Regions from separate parts of the Homo sapiens genome. Here region 1 is linked to region 2. Evidence: fine-mapped expression QTL. Tissue or cell type: cerebellum. Region 2 holds a variant in brackets; the other region holds the start of a gene. All regions are shown on one strand. Distances are from middle to middle.

Evidence for each region. PIP is the estimated chance that this variant, and not a neighbour inherited with it, causes the effect.
Region 1: it holds the start of ITGA11, and the variant in region 2 is fine-mapped to the expression of ITGA11 in cerebellum (GTEx, PIP above 0.99). The same link has a PIP of 0.9 or more in cerebellar hemisphere.

Annotation. Positions count from the first base shown.
Region 1 is chr15:68,430,806-68,433,305 of GRCh38, reverse strand. ITGA11 (integrin subunit alpha 11) reads left to right here and starts at 1,143. Exons shown (of 30, transcript NM_001004439.2): 1 at 1,143-1,291. The coding sequence starts at 1,240. RefSeq lists an enhancer at 1,983-2,500.
Region 2 is chr15:68,314,448-68,317,199 of GRCh38, reverse strand. It overlaps ITGA11 (integrin subunit alpha 11), which reads left to right. Exons shown (of 30, transcript NM_001004439.2): 22 at 1,473-1,549. Among named protein-coding and RNA genes, the nearest start is that of FEM1B, 38 kb to the right of the region's middle. RefSeq lists an enhancer at 1,270-2,136. The variant G/A (reference allele first, on the strand shown) is at 1,236.

The DNA.
Region 1 (2,500 bases), 120 kb before region 2:
AACATCACCTCCTCTGGGAAGCCCTTCCAATACCTCCCAGATAGAAAACTCTATCCTTTGTGCACCCACACACCACCTGTACTCACCCATCCATCCACCCGCCCACCTACTTTGTTCCTGGGTGTTAGGGGCTGAGTACTCCATTGTGAACCAGAGATTTCTACCCTGATGGTGTTTTCAGTCTGCACAGGAGAGAAAAGTTAAATGATCACACCAATTGATGCCTTGCTTCTCTACTAAGCACAATGAAGAGAAATGAGGGAGAGCGGGCTGGGGAATATCAGCATGTGTCTGGGACTCAACCTGGTGGGGACGGGAAGAGGGGGTGAAGGAAGCCTTTCCTGAGAAAGTGGGGGAAGGGCGCTCTGCTGTGGCTTTCCCTGCATCTTGGCCTTCCTACCCTCTGCCTCGGCTTCCTCCATTGCTGGAAAAGCCTCCACAAGCGCGGTGGAGGTCCGGGGCCTGGATTTAAAGCTCTTGAGATAAATGTGCATTGAATTTAACTACCAGTGATTAGAAGAGGGAAAGAAGGTGGCAGGGTTACAAAGAAGAGCTTCACGTTAGGTTAAGAGGGGGTGCACGGTGTCCCTGGGTGCTTTGGAATGCCTCAGGTGTGGAGGCTCAGGGAGTGGCAGTGGAGGCGAATCTGCATGTATTCCAGGGTCAGAAGAAACACTAGCCTCTACAATTCAAGCCGCAGGGTGCAGGGAGACACGGGGATGTCTTAGAATGGACCTTTGAGGGACATCCACTCACTTGGCCAAGGGAGACCTGCGTTCCAGCAGGTGTTCCTGAGCCAGCTTGGGTACCCTCTGAGTTTTGTGAATCTCTTTTCACTGGGAAATGGGAATAAAAACCACTTTTCCTGAACAGAATCTGACTGAGGCGGTGCGGTGCTACACTGGTGAGGGGGTTCCCAGGAGCGGTTCTCTGGAGTTTTCTCCAGAGGCTGACGTGGGGTTGGCGGAGAAGGAGCGCTGCACAGGCGCGTCGAGGCAGCGCGCCGCCTGCCCAGGTGGCAGAGCGGCCGAGACTGGCCCAGAGCCCGAGCCGGAGTGGTGTCCGGCGCCCCTCCCCTCCGCTCGAGCCCTCCCACTTCCTCTGAATGAGCCGCAGCTGTCAGGGAGCCCGGCGCCCCGCGCAGTGCAGGCTGCAGGCGCCGCGCCGAGGAGGCTGCCGCTCTGGCTTGCCGCCCCCCGCCGCCGCTGCACACCGGACCCAGCCGCCGTGCCGCGGGCCATGGACCTGCCCAGGGGCCTGGTGGTGGCCTGGGCGCTCAGCCTGTGGCCAGGTAGGTGCCCACCCTCTGCCTCCCCTTGCCTCTCGGAGTCCCTCCCTGGGCCCTCGGGGCTTGGATCCAGCGGCCAGGATCGGGACGCGACCCTCCTCCCAGGGTCAGACCTCAGCTGCTCTTGGGGACGTGGGTCCCCCAGGGACTGGCCCCAGTCTAGCGGTTCAGTCAAGTTTCGCTAAAGAGGGAGGTGCGAAGGCTATTGAAAGCCGGGACTCTTTGGTGTGTTTGGGAAGAGTTGAAGAGGCTTGAGTTGAAAAGCTCCCAGATCTGGTGGCCCTCCTGGGCGCCTTAGGTGCCTCCAAGGCCCATGCCGGGGTTCCCGCACGGCTGCCAGGGGCACTCGGGTGTCCCGGGAGCGCCGAGGGCGCACGGCCCCGGCTGGGGAAGGGAATCAGCGCCAAGAGAGTGTGCCCTGGCTGCCCTCCTGCCTGGCTCCGGGGAAGCATCTCAAAGTTTGGAGAGCCGGGCGCGGCGGCCCCGGAGGGCTGAAGGGTGGGGGTGAGGGCTGCGCAGAGTGCCTCCGGCCAAAGACAGAGCAAAGCCCCGGGGCGATGGCCGGTAGGCGGGGGCTAGCTCTCGTCTGCCCGGCCAGCAGCGGCGGGACACAGTCGCGCAGCGCAGGACCCCCGAAACGTTACCTGACACCCGGGGTAGGGACCCGGCATTGCCTCCCAACCCGCGCTCGGAATTATGCAATTATTCAATAATCTGGGGAAAGCCGCCGTCGCCTAGACGCGCGCCGCCGCCTAATGCACTCCAGGTGTCGGGGCGCGGCAGGAACCTCCGGCCCGAGGGGCGCGCGGCTGGGAGCGGGAAGCCAGCCCTGAGCTCTCCGCCCTAGGGTACCCTGGCCCCGGCCGTCCCACACCGGGCTCCCCGGCTCCACCCTCCACGCGGGGCGGCTGCCAGTGATGCTGTTCTGCGGAAGACGGCCAAGTGCTCCGGCAAGGGCCAGCGCCTCGGTTACTGGCCGGGTGTGGGCGCTCAACCTTGCCTCCCCTTCTGCGTGGGCTCCAGGCCCGAGCTGGGGCCAGTAGTGGGGGTCAGATGCGGTGGTAGTGGGAGAGGTGCCCTCAGGGAGCTCAGGTGGAGACCCCTATCCCGCAGCCGCTTGCCCCAGTCCCCGGGTACCACGCGAAGCAAGTCCACCCTCCTGTCGGCCTACAGAGGAGCTTCTCAGAGGGCCCATGGTTGAAAGGGCCTCTG
Region 2 (2,752 bases):
AGGGCGGCAAGAGCAACAAGAGTGAACACAGAAGACCAGGGAGGGATGGGAGGCCTGAGGTGGCTTTTATTTGTCTTTTCTCCCACAAAATTACATTCAAGTGACCAAATGAGCCAGCCATCCCCATGCTAGCAGCCCATCCTTTAACTCAGAGAGAATTCCTACCACTCCCAGCCACTAGTCTGCCACCTGCCCTTAGCCAGTCCCACTGTTCTGCAGCCTCACAAGTTTTTCAAATTTCTGGCCTCTGCCACTGTGCTGTGTATGAGGAGGGATGGGGAGAGAAACTACCATTTCGTGAGTACCTACCACCCAACTGTGCTTAAAAGCTCATGTGAATAGAGGGTGGGTATGTGAAGGGAGAAGCAAAGTAGCTGGGAAAGGGAGGGAGACGCCAGATTGCAGGGAGTGTTTGGACATCAGCCCTGGGCAGCAGGCAGCCATAGAAGGTTCTGGAGTAGGAGACCTAATTGAGGCCAAGCTGCGTGGACTTGGGAATCAGAGAGGAGCTGTGGCAGGAGCCAGTAGGCGGCAGCAGTGCTCCCAGGAGCAGGGTCTGCACAGCTGGGGAAAGAGAAAGAAATGGGAGTGGGGATGAGGGCTCCTTAGCAAAGCACCTCCCTGGTGAGATATAAGTCAAAGGTGTGGTTTCTGGGTTGAGGCACCGACAAACCCAGGAGCTCTGGAGTGGGGATGGAGCAGGACATAGCCCAGGCTTCCCCACCCACGCCCAGCCACTCCTGCAGAGAAGGGGCCGCTGAGGTCTCCTGGGAAACCTCGTGAGGGTGAGACCAGGGAGCGCATCAGGGGTCTGTGCAAAGCCTCAGTAATGCCCCCAGGTGGGGCAGGGAGGAGGCGAGGAGGGTCGCATGTTTCCCCACCGCGGGGCGAAGGGCAAGGGGAGTATCAGGGCCCAGGTCAGCAGTGTGGCAGAAGCGCTGCCAGACAAGGGGCGGATGCCTTGTTGGCCTGCTGGGTGGCCACTGGCCCTCATCCCTCTCTGGGCCATCTCCTCCCTGCCACACACAAAGAAGAGGTGGACAAGGCAGTCCTACCAAACGTTTCTGGCCCCCACATCCTGTGGTGCATGGCGATGGCCATCGGCCCTTCCTGCCATCAAGGACCCCTACCCTAAAAACCCTGCAGACAGAGTCTGGAGCTGGACTTGCTGCTTTCTGGTTGCCTTTTGCTAAAAACAAAAGAAGAGGAAGAGGGAGGGGGGCTGGCTCAGCCCC[G/A]AGAAACCCCATTGTGGGAGCTGTTGTCTTTGGCTGTGTCCCCACAGCAGCCCTGAAGCTCAGCTCATGTTCTGTAGCACCTGGTCCTCCCTTTCCCAGCCTGTTCCCAGCCAGCAGCTCCCCAACCCCCAGCAAGCTCCCTCTCCCCAAGCCAGCAGGGGGCTGTGGGGAGTGGGCTGTGGGGAGTGGGCGGGGCTGGTCCCAGCAATGCCCAGACATGCGACTGCTTCCTTGCAGGTGGCTTTCCGTCTTGATTTTGAGTTCAGCAAATCCATCTTCCTACACCACCTGGAGATCGAGCTCGCTGCAGGCAGGTCAGGGCCGTGCCTGCTCCTTCTCCCCAAAGCTTGCTATTCCGGGGCCCAGCTCTCTGGCTGCTAGCAACTGCTCCTCCCGACACTGAGTCCGCTGCCCCACGCCCTGTCCCCCACTGCCCCAACCTTGAGTGGAGGCAGTGGGGTGGGGAGGTGGGCCGGCATCCGTTGCAGGTGTGGGCCAACCTGCTGCCCCCTGTGTTGCCACCACTCTTCATTCTTTGGATGATAAATAATAATGTCAGCCCTTTACTTTTAGACAGCCCTGTATACAGCAGTAATTCACAAACCCTATGGTTATAAAGCATTGTACAGGCAAAAATCTCAGTCCTCACAGAGGCCCCTTAAGATCATCAAAGCAGGGGTTATTCCACACACCATCTTCCAAGTTAAGAAAAGAGAGGCTCAGAGAGGGTGAGTGAATTTCCCAGGGACACACAGCAGTAAATTGTGCAGCTGGAAGCTGAACACTACTCGTCCTATTCCCCATCCAGGGCTCTTCCTGTCCTAGTCACCTCTCTCCCCTTTTTCTATTTTTAAGAGGCCTTTTCTTACTCTATGTGGGTCTTCCTGTCTATCTGTCTGTCTGTCTCCCAGGCCTCTCAGAGGTAGCTTGCTATGTGTTGACCCCATGAATCACTTTGTGTCAGTAGTAAATACACTTCTCTTTTTTGCAGAATTACCTCTGTGTGGGGAAGGACAGAGGGATTGTGTCCACTCTGGAGCCTTATAAATGGCAAAAATCCTTAGCTAAGAAATAAATACCCCAGGCAAACCGAACACTAACATTCCAGCACACACACGTGCAGGTCAGAGGTCACATAAGCGCTGGGGACTCATACCCGACACGTGCTCGCGTCCCAGCTACAGTTAAATGAATTGTGCATCCTGGTAGAATTCTCACACACCACGTGGCAAACTTGGCAAGGCCTCCCTTGCTCTCTGCCCTGCTCTAAGAAAGCCCAGTCCCGTCTTCACAGGAGAAATGAGCGCGCTTGCAGAGCAGTGTCTCTGGCACAGCTGTGGGGGGTGTCTGAGAATTAGGTGTGTGTAGGAGGGGGCTCTGGAGGCACATCTGTGTGTGTTGGGTCTCCCTTTTCTAACCAAACCCCTATCCTGGGGTAAGGCTTCCAAAGGGAATCAAACTCAGTCTATATAACAAGCAAGAACTGTACATTTTTATGTCTAAAATGATTTGCCCCG